Linked DNA regions of Homo sapiens: region 2 is linked to region 1. Evidence: fine-mapped expression QTL. A gene starts in region 1. The other region holds a variant in brackets. All regions are shown on one strand. Distances are from middle to middle. Region 1 holds the start of F2R (coagulation factor II thrombin receptor). Region 2 has its middle 23 kb from the start of F2R.

Region 1 (5,375 bases):
AATTTATAAACATCACCTTTTACTCTTGGATGTTGGCCCTTTTAATGATCACATATCATCTCACTTAAATTGTCTAGACGAATGTAAACTGGTTGATGAATTTACACATTTCTCAACAACTATCTGCTGAGTGAACATTTGTTTTAGTCACCATGGGGATAAATAAAACTTTATAATCTTAGTTGGGAGAATGAGACACACACACAAAGTGACAAGGCAGGAAATGCCAAAATGAGTGGGAACAAAAAGTCGGGAAGTGCTGGAGGAAGGCTCAGCTTGGTGGTCAGGGCCAGCCCTGGGAGGGCTTCACCGCCCCTCTTGGCACACAGAGCTGGTAATCCTGGACAATAAACTCTATCACAGCGGTGGCGGTTCAAGGATGGGAGGCACTGTTGGATGCCTCAGAGTCCCAGCACCACTACCTTATGACAGACAATGCTTAGAATTGTCAATGCATGGTGGTAATAGAAAGTAAACCTATCTTGGGTTGATTTTATTAGTGATTTTAAATTTTCTAAAGACAAAGCCCCACTTATTCCTAATTGCTTGCACCCAGGGTGGGTGGACTGCCCCTTCCCTGCCCCACCCGCCACCACTTGCTTAGCCGCTGTCTCTGGGTCTTAGTTGCAGAATCAGCAAAAGGGGATAAATACCCACCTTAACAAGGTGTTTTGACAAGGTGAAATGAGACAATCCAAGTGAAAATTCCTTCTGGCCCAGGGCTTGACATGGAATATGGCACTTAGCAAGCGCTCCTTTTCCTCTATCATACTCCTTTCTTCTTTCCCTCCCAAAGTGGTTCCAGAATCCAGTGTTGATAAACTAGCCAAGTTCATCCACCTGCCTTTCTGTCTACACCAGCACTGTCCATATTAACATGCACCACTCCTGCCATGAGGATGTAAGAAGCTTGGCAGAAACCAGTACGCTTTGACTTCACTCCCTAATGAGGCTACACACCTTGCTGGGAGGCCACTGTGAGAAAGGGTGCAGCATTTCTATAAGCTCTGTTCTCCACCCCATGATCCAAATCTCAAACAAAACACTGGATTCTCAAGAGCGTGTCCTCAAACTACATTGTGCAAATTACATAATGGTATGTGAAATCATATCTCATCGCAAACAATTTTTCAGGAGTTCTCGGTGTTCTCTCAAACACTTTCGGCAACAATGCTCACTTATCTGCAGGCAGGCTAGTTACTGCTAAACACTGGGCCCCAGTCTGGAGCTCTTAGTTTTCCCAAAAGCATCTCAAAACTCACCCTGAACAAAGACAGAGAGGCGAGAACATGCTATGTCTTTGTCACCTCTTAATCTTGATGTGTCTACACTTTTTTTTGAGTGTGGGAGCAATATAGAGTGCACATTCTTTTAGCGATAACAAGAAAACCCGCTAGAACTTCTTTCAGCGTAAAAAAAATGGCTCAAAGCTTATAAAATACTATTGTTATTAGGAAATTCAAAAACACTTTTCTCACTTTCTAATTAGCGCCTTTACAGGCTAAAAACAACTCATCTGTGCTGCTCTTGGGGAAAGGGATACAGAAAATATTTGACCAAATAAATTAATCAAATTTATTTATTTGGTCAAGTGGCCAGATACTTAAAAATAGACTACTAGTGGGGAAAATATTCTAGGGGAGCAACCTTCTTGCAGTGGATCAGAAATCTCGTTAAGAAATACTGGGATCCCACAGTGTTCGAGGGAGCCCGGTCCTGGGGAGGGATCTCTCTCTTCAACTCACTTAGAAGGAATGGGTTCTAGGTAACAACAAAATCCTCTCCATGTCCCCTCCCCCGCCACCACGCGGAGCCTCTGCTATTGTCACCATATATCTCGCACCCTGCGCACCTCCTGGACACAAGGCCGGGCCGGGGGCTGCTGGTACTGATTCTCTGCTAAACATGCCAAGGGACTGCCTGGGCTTTTCTCTACATCACTTTTCTCGCCTGTAAAATGTGCAAGAAAAAAACTTCCAACAAAGCAAAACTTCAGCGGCAGCGGTTCGCCACTTTATATTTTAAAGATCGAAACGTTTATTGGTGGAGCAACGTGAGAGCTTTTCTTTTTGGGGGTGGTCCTGGGAGAAACACAATGACAAGTGCAACGCAGGACTGCAGGCTCCCCCAGGGGGCTTCCGCTCCATCCTCCTCCATATCCAACACCCCGTGGCAGGCGGGCTGCACCCTCCAAGATCGAGTCCAAAGGGGCATCGGCTGGGCCCGCGAAGGGGGTGGCACGCCCCACCTAAACGTGACTGGAAAAAACTCCAGATCTCAGCCCAAATGCCAGTTTGGCTTTCGGAGGAAACTGAGGCAGGGGTGAGGAGAAGGCGCAACAGTGACCCCCGCAGTCTCCCCTCGGCGTCCCTCCGCCCGCGCACCCCATTCCCGTGCATCTCTCACCTGGCCTGCGGGCCCGGGTGCGGGCAGACAACAGCGGGCCGCACAGACTGAAGCAGGCGGCCACCAGCAGCAGCCGCCGCGGCCCCATTGTCCCGGGCTCTGCGCGGCGCTGCTCCGGGAGGCTGCCCCGCCTCGGGCTGCTCCGCTTCACCCTCTCTCCTGACTTCTGCGGGTCGGGGAGCCGGTCTTCGCGGCAGGCAGAGCGCAGGGTGCCCACGGGTAAGATCAGGGTCCAAGCGACCCTCGGCGAGCGCTGTGTCTGGGGCGGTTAGCGGGGCGGGGCGGGACTGGGGCGCGCGGTCGCGCGGGCGCGAGCGAGGAAGGGCGCCCTCCGGCGTGCAGTGAGAGTCTCTGCGCTGGAGCCGCTCGGCGCCCCCTCCCCGCGGTCCCTCAGCCGCCGCTCGCAAGCCCCTCTGGCTCTGTGCGCCCCGCCCCGCCCCGCCCTGCCCTACTGGGGGGCCCTGGCCGCCGGCCACTGCCGGGCCTAGAAGTCCAAATGAGAAGTTTTTTCCTCTGGGCACCGTTGATTCGCGAAGCTGTCAGTGACTCACACTGGCGGGGTCCTTGGAATGGGGCCGCACGGCTCGCAGGCTGCTTCCCGCGGCCGTCTCGACCCTCCTGGGATGTGGAGACGTCGACAGTGGACGCCCCGGCCAGGATGCGTCCACGCCCTGCAGCCCCGCAGCCCTGGCGTGGCCTCCCGTCCTCCCTCCCTCCGTGTGGGACACCGGCAAAGTTCAGTTTTCGCTAAAAGTCTAAAAGGGACTTCTGCTTTTGTAACGTGGGGATCACGGATTTAAAAGTTTATGATGTAGTGACAGGGTTGCCCCTAAATGAGAAAGGGCCCTTGAGTCTGGACAGAATTCTTGAACTTTTATACGTCTCTCTTTATTTCGCGAAGTTAGGCGTTTCATACGCCGGGCACTCGTTTCCCCCACACGCAGACTGCGAGTGGAATAGGAAGAGCGGCTTCTCCCGCTTCCCCCCCGCGCGGCCTCGCGGAGCTCTTCCCTTTCCCGCGCCGCCCGCCGGGGTCACCTGCGCATCTGGGAGGAGGGCGCGCGTCTGCCGGTGAGGCCGGCGTTCTAGGGCCGCGGGCGCCCAGGAGAGAAATGGCCTGGTAACTTTCCAAGTGTCCTTCACACGTTCTTGAACGATATTACAGTTTGTTTTGTTTTTGAGGCAGGGTCTTGCCCTGTCGCCCAGGCTGGAGTGCAGTGGCGCCAACACGGCTCACTGCAGCCTCGATCTCCCTGGCTCAGGCCACCCTTTCGCCCCAGCCTCCGGATTACCTGGGACCACAGAAAGGCGCGCGCCACCATGTCCGGCTAATTTCACTGCTGGCCTCAAGCGATCCTCCTGCCTCAGCCTCCTAAAGTGCGGGGATTACAGGCGTGAATCACCGCGCCAGGCCTGATATTAAAGGAGTTTGGCTAAATTCAAGGCACAGGGCGGGGACACTCGCTTGGCAGTCTGCTAAGGGCCCCCAGGGGCGTCGCGGCTGGGGGTGGGCAGGAGGAGCCTGCAGCTTAAGTTGCTTTGCCACTGGCTCTGGTGCGTGCGCCTTTCAGACTCCAACAGGAAATGGGTCCCCAAATAGCTGTTTCTAGGAAAGCTCAGCCGCAGCCCCTTCTCCTCTTAACCCAGCGCACTGATGTGCGGGCATATTCGGAGTTCTGTGGTTGATAAGCTGCAGCTGAGAGCCGGTGGTCAGTTTTCTAAGCCTTTTTTAAAAGTGAATTTCGCACGAAGAGTATCATTCCCCCACTAGAGCCCGGACACTTACATCCGTGGAGAAAGTACGATCAGAGGCGATTTCGTTCTTCCCTGTATTCTCCCATCATCCTCAAAGGACAGTACCTTGTTGTACACAGAAGTTGATCACTAAATTGCGGAAGTACCCAGTTAAATAAAGCTTTTTAAAATCTATCCCCGTTCAGTTATCCTCTGGAAACATACCCAAGAGTAAATGTGAACAGTTAAAATTACATAGTTCTTCATTCACTATTAAACTATTTTTCATTATTCCTAAGACGTCATTGATTTTACAATTTATCATTTTAACCCATTACCACAAGCCAGAAAAAAATGTGACATACCAATGATTGTAAGAAACACTCCAATTTCAGGGTTATGAAGAAAAGGCATTTTAGAATCAATGAAACACAGTGGAAAATATAAACACATATGACAAAATTTCTGATAGTTGAAGGATATGAAATGAAAAATAAATTACCTTCTGCCTCCCCTCCCCTAGTTGCCATCTGACCACTAAGTTTCCCCTCCTTCCTTCCTTCCTTCCTTCCTTCCTTCCTTCCTTCCTTCCTCCCTCCCTCTCTTCCTTCCTTCCTTCCTCTCTTCCTTCCTTCCTCTCTCTCTCTCTCTGTCTTTCTTATTTTCTTTCTTTCTTTTTTTTCCTGAGGCGGAGTTTCACTCTTGTTGCCCAGGCTGGAGTGCAATGGCGCGGACTCGGCTCACAGCAACCTCCGTCTCCTGGGTTCAAGCGATTCTCCTGCCTCAGCCTCCCGAGTACTTGGGATTACAGGCGCCTACCACCGCGCCTGGCTAATTTTTTGTATTTTTAGTAGAGACTGGGTTTCACCATATTGGCCAGGTTGGCCTCAAACTCCTGAACTCAGGTGATCCACCCGCCTTAGCCTCCCAAAGTGCTGGGATTACAGGCATGAGCCACCGCATCCAGCTACCTGACCACTAAGTTTCTGTTCACCATTCAAAAAATCATATCCACATACAAATTGCATATATGTATATCCTTAAAATAAGAATGGAATAATACCACCACATTTTAAAATTTTATCTGTGTCATTGGTGGAAAATGTTATTTTTAACCATTTTACAAAACGATAAAGCTTAAAAGGATGCTTTGGGGTCTTAGTTGTTAGAACAAAATGTACCTCTAGTGACAAAAAGACGTACAATGAAGGCTGGGTGCAGTGGCTCACACCTGT
Region 2 (5,375 bases), 23 kb before region 1:
CTCTTTGTGTCCATGTGTACTCAATGTTTAGTTTCACTTATAAGTGAGAACATGTGGTATTTGGTTTTCTGTTTCTGCATTAGTTGGCTTAGGATAATGGCCTCCAGCTCTATCCATGTTGCTGCAAAGAACGTGATCTTGTTCTTTTTTACGGCTGCATCGTATTCCATGGGGTATATGTACCACATTTTCTTTATCCAGTCTATCATTGGTGGGCATTTAGGTTGATTCCATAGCTTTGCTATTGTGAATAGTGCTGCAGTGAACACCTGTGCGCAGATGTCTTTATGGTAGAATGATTTCTATTCCTTTGGGTATATACCCAATAATGGGACTGCTGGGTTGAATGATAATTCTGTTTTAAATTATTTGAGAAATCACCACACTGCTTTCCACAATGGCTGAACTAATACTTTACATTCCCACCAGCAGTATATAAGCTAAGAAGCACTTTTCAAAAACAGTGGTATTGTTGATCTAAAAGGAAGAAGCTGAGTCAAAATTAATATAAGTAGAGAGTTTATTTGGGCCAAGCTTGAGGACTGCAACCCAGTGTATATTGAAGTGTATATTCAAGTTGTCCTGAATATACAATCTGATTAGCAGCAGTTGCATGTGAATGTTTATAAAGGAAAAGAGGCAGTTCCTAAGTTGTTTATCAAAATTTACATTAAAATAACATAAGCTGTTGATTGGATACACATTGTTCTTTGTATCACAGATTCCAGGAACATGAAGATAACAGGGAATGTAGCTAGTCAGGAACAAAATGCCTTTTTTTTTTTTGAGATGGAGTCTCTCTCCGTTGCCCAGGCTGGAGTGGCGCCATCTTGACTCACTGCAACCTCTACCTTCTGGCCTCCTGGGTTCAAACAATTCTCCTGCCTCAGCCCCCCGAGTAGCTGGGATTTCATGAGCATGCTGCCATGCCTGGCTAATTTTTGTATTTTTAGGAGTGTAGGGGTTCCACCATGTTGACCAGTCTGGTCTCAAACTCCTGACCTCAAGGGATCCTCTCGCCTCGGCCTCCCAAAGTGTTGGGATGACAGGCATGAGCTACCACACCACCAGGAACAAAATGACTTTAAATAATTGCCCACAGGCATGGGGGGTGGTGGGTAGGGGGAGGGTATGTGCCGGGGGTGTGACTGAAGTCCTCTACTCCCGTCTCTCTGGGCCTAATAAATTTTGCACACCTCACATAGCTCAGACTGCTGAGGGATTTTTCTTTTCTTAGTATCAACCCTGGTTTACACATCAGAATCTTCTGAGGAGCTTGAAAACAATATCAATGTCCAGGCCTCGCCCCCAGAGATTGGCACTGGAATTGTTTAGAAGCTCTCCAGTGATTCTATGCGCAACCAGAGTTGAGAACTGATTTAGTTTCTTTTCTTTTCTTTCTTTCTTTTCTTTTTTTTTTTTTTTTGAGACAGAGTCTCGTTCTGTTGCCCAGGCTGGAGTGCAGTGGTGCCATCTCGGCTCAGTGCAGCGTCTGCCTCCCGGGTTCCAGCAATTCTCCTGCCTCAGCCACCCGGGTAGCTGGATTACAGGCACGTGCCACCATGTCTGACTAATTTTTGTATTTTTAGTAGAGACAGGGTTTCACCATGTTGGCCAGCCTGGTCTCGAACTGCTGACCTCAGGTGATCCGCCCGCCTTGGCTTCCCAAAAAGCTAGGATTACAGGCATGAGCCACCAGGCCTGGCCAACTGATTTAGTTTCTAAAACTTGTTACAAGGCAGAGCTGATAAAATTCTAAATCTGAGGTCTTCAAATTTTGTGCTTCCTAACTAAACATTAAGTATTAGGATTAAATCCCAAAGCCAGTTAGCTTCTGGAGGATGGGAATATATTATTTGTCTTGTTTTTTTTAAAATATGTGTCAGCTAGTTTCAAGAGCAACTAGATATCCCAGGATAGGAAACAAAACAACAAAAATAGATATCAAATGATTATGGTTTTGCTCACGAATGCATCTCAGTATTGGACAGCCCACCCTTCGTGGTGTTTTCACTTCCTTGGATGGGTCGCATAGCAGCACACCAAAATGACCTGCAGATGTAGTCATTAAGATAGGCAAAACAGCCAGACTGGCCCTGCCACCATGCAGGCTACTATAGATGCAGCTTTCTTTTCTTTTTTTTTTTTTTGAGATGGAGTTTCGCTCTTGTCATCCAGGCTGGATGGCACAATCTCGGCTCACTGCAACCTCTGCCTCCTGGGTTCAAGCAATTCTCCTGCCTCAGCCTCCTGAGTAGCTGGGATTACAGGTGTGTGCCACCACATCTGGCTAATTTTTGTATTTTTAGTAGAGACAGGGTTTCACATGTTGGCCAGGCTGGTCTCAAACTCCCGACCTCAGGTGATCCACCCGCCTCGGCCTCACTAAAGTGCTGGGATTACAGCGGTGAGCCACCGTGCCCTGGCCAGATGCAGCTTTCAAAG[C/T]TCATCTCCTTACTGCTTATGAGTCATTTCCTGAAGTGATAAACACACAGCCTGCTGGGTTGAAACTGTACATGCTGTGTTATCTGAATTCTGAGATGCTACTGAATTTGACCTCTGGTTTTCCGTGTGTTTCCATAAGACTAGCATGCAATCAACAGTCCCCATGACAACAAACTTGGCGCTTGAGTTTCACTTTACAGGAATGCCACCATGGGTAGAATCTGCTGCTGTTCTGAATTGTCTCTTGGTCTTCTGGTCTGAAACTTTGCTCAGCAAGCACCTCTCTCTTTCCTTTACACAGCAGGTGGCTGAAAATCAGACCTCACACAGAGCTTCCTGTTCTGTGGACCACACCATACCTGATGACGTGAATCAGTATCTTTTCTTTTCTTTTTGTGACAGGGTCTCACTCTGTCACCCAGGCTGAAGTGTAGTGGCACCATCTTGGCTCATTGCAACCTCCGCCTCCCAGGCTCAAGCCATCCTCCCACCTTAGCCTCCCAAGTAGCTGGAACTACAGGCATGAGCCATCACGCTCGGCTAATTTTTGTATTTTTCGTAGAGACGGGGTTTTGCCATTTTGCCTAGGCTGGTCTCGAACTCCTGGGCTCAAACCATTCATCCGCCTTAGCCTTCCAAAGTGCTGGGATAATAGGCGTGAGCCACTGAGCCTGGATGTTGAATCAGTTTCTTGCTCCAAGACTTGGAACCCCTCAGCTCTGAAACAGCCAGAAACCCAGAGTGGTGCCTGCAGCTCTAAGCCAACTCTTTACCCCTGTTTGCTTTTATGCTTTTATAATAATTACCAGTTTATCTGTTTTCTTCAAGTCAATAAAGTTGGGACATCTTGGATAAGGGCAGTGGTTTTCAAACTTCTTTTGCTCAGAACACCTTAATACACTTAAAATTATTGAGGACCAGCAAAGAGCCTTTGTTTATGTGGGTTGCATCCATTGGTGTGCTGGAGTCAACTTGTACCTGCTCACAAGAATTCAATATTCAGGAAATTTGTCAAGCCAACTGTTAAACAGTTGGGAGCTTGAAACTGGAAAAGAAGGGAGTATTCACACCATCAAAATTGGCAAATGCTAGTTTGCCAGATCAGGCTTTTTTTCTTTTTGTGGAGATCCTGCTTAGCAGCACATCACTGACTTTTTTTCTTTTTCATTTTTTGAGACAGCCTTGCTCTGCTCTGTCGTCCAGGCTGGAGTGCAGTGATGCCATCTTGACTCACTGTAACCCTCGCCTCCCAGGCTCAAGTGATTCTCGTGCCTCAGCCTCCCAAGTAGCTGGGATTACAGATGTGCACCACCACACCCAGCTAAGTTTTTTATTTTTAGTAGAGATGGGGTTTACCTATGTTGCCCAGGCTGGTCTCGAACTCCTGGCCTCGTGATCCGCCTGGCTTGGCCTCCCAAAGTGTTGGTATTACAGGTGTGAGCTACTGCACCCTGCTGCCAATGATTTTATCTACTGATATTTTCCATATTAGACATTAAAATGGAGAACTTTTGAAAATATCTATTTCAGCTAAAAATGACAATAAGCCCATTACATGTTAAAATAAATACTATATTTTTCAAAATTTTTTCCCAAAACAATAATTTAAGGAGGAGAGTTGCATTGTTTTACATTTTTGCAATCTCTTTAATGACTGGTGTAATAGGAGACAGTCAGATTTTCGTCTCTGCTTCTGCATTCAATCTGTTGCACTTTCACATGTTGTGTAGCTTCTGGAAAACTCATCTGTCCACTTATGAGAGAAACAGACCAAAAAAGGCAAATAATATCTTGGTATTTGAAGAGAGTTTGACCTTGCAGATCTCCTGAGAGTCTCAGGAACTCTGAGAATAATTGCATTAGAGAATTTCTCCTCTCTTCTCACATTGCAGCTCACTTAACCACACCTCCTTCACAAAACACAATTAGGTTTATCCTGTGGTCAATTACTCTTCACACACATTTGGTCTAGTAGTTTCAAAAGGCATAGCCACATAACAGGCTAATTATGCCAGGAAATTACCATTGGTGAACTGTTTTTCCCCTTAATTTTCACGACAGCACCTGGCTGAAGATAAGCTGCTAATGGATGGTCCAGGCCCCAGAAACTTAAATAGCTTGGTCATCAATGCTGCTTAACCTTTTCCACTTGCTTCTGTAGCTCAACTTCCTCAAAGACATGCCAACGGCAAACAGTTTTTAAAATTTCTTAAATTCAGAAGTATAACCTAAAATTTTCCAAGTGTATATTCAATAGCCAAGCATTCCATTTCCTTAAAAATGCTATTTTTAGCTTGGTGGAAAAAACATTTTTTTTTTTTGGATACATGGTCTCACTCTGTTGCCCAGGCTGGACTGCAGTGGTGCAATCATGGCTCGCTGCAGCCTCAACCTCTTGGGCTCAGACGATCCTCCCACCTCAGCCTCCTGAGTAGCTGGGACCACAGGCATGCCATCGTGCCAGGTTAATTATTTATTTATTTTTTAATTGAGATGGCGTCTCACTATGTTGCTCAGGCTGGTCTCAACCTCCTGGTCTGAAATGATCCTCTGGCCTCAGTCTCCCAAAGTGTTGGCATTATAGGCGTGAGCCACCATGCCTGGACAAAAAAAATTTTTGTGTTAGCAAAATTTAAGGTTTTTTGAACTCAATCTATTCCTTGAAACACACGTGAAAAGTCCAGGCCTTAGAAACTTAAAAAGCTTGTGTGTTAACTTATAAAAATTCTGTATGTTAACAAAATCCTTGTTTAGTTGAAATAATTTTTTCATTGACTATGACTCTAGAAATAATTTATCAAAAATTTTTTTATTTTCAACCTTGAGAAGTACTAGTCATTTTGCTTTAAATTTCCCCTCCTCCCTTCTGCCTGAGGGAGTGCTAGACAGCAAAGGACTGTCATTCAGCCAGAGAAGACAGCACAGCCATT

The links. PIP is the estimated chance that this variant, and not a neighbour inherited with it, causes the effect.
Region 2: its variant is fine-mapped to the expression of F2R in blood mononuclear cells (TOPMed, PIP above 0.99).

The regions. Positions count from the first base shown.
Region 1 is chr5:76,713,427-76,718,801 of GRCh38, reverse strand. It overlaps F2R (coagulation factor II thrombin receptor), which reads right to left and starts at 2,676. Exons shown (of 2, transcript NM_001992.5): 1 at 2,407-2,676. The coding sequence starts at 2,494. RefSeq lists enhancers at 1-326, 327-827 and a silencer at 2,621-2,870.
Region 2 is chr5:76,736,313-76,741,687 of GRCh38, reverse strand. No RefSeq gene overlaps it. Among named protein-coding and RNA genes, the nearest start is that of F2R, 23 kb to the right of the region's middle. RefSeq lists enhancers at 56-135, 2,269-2,338, 2,439-2,768. The variant C/T (reference allele first, on the strand shown) is at 2,446.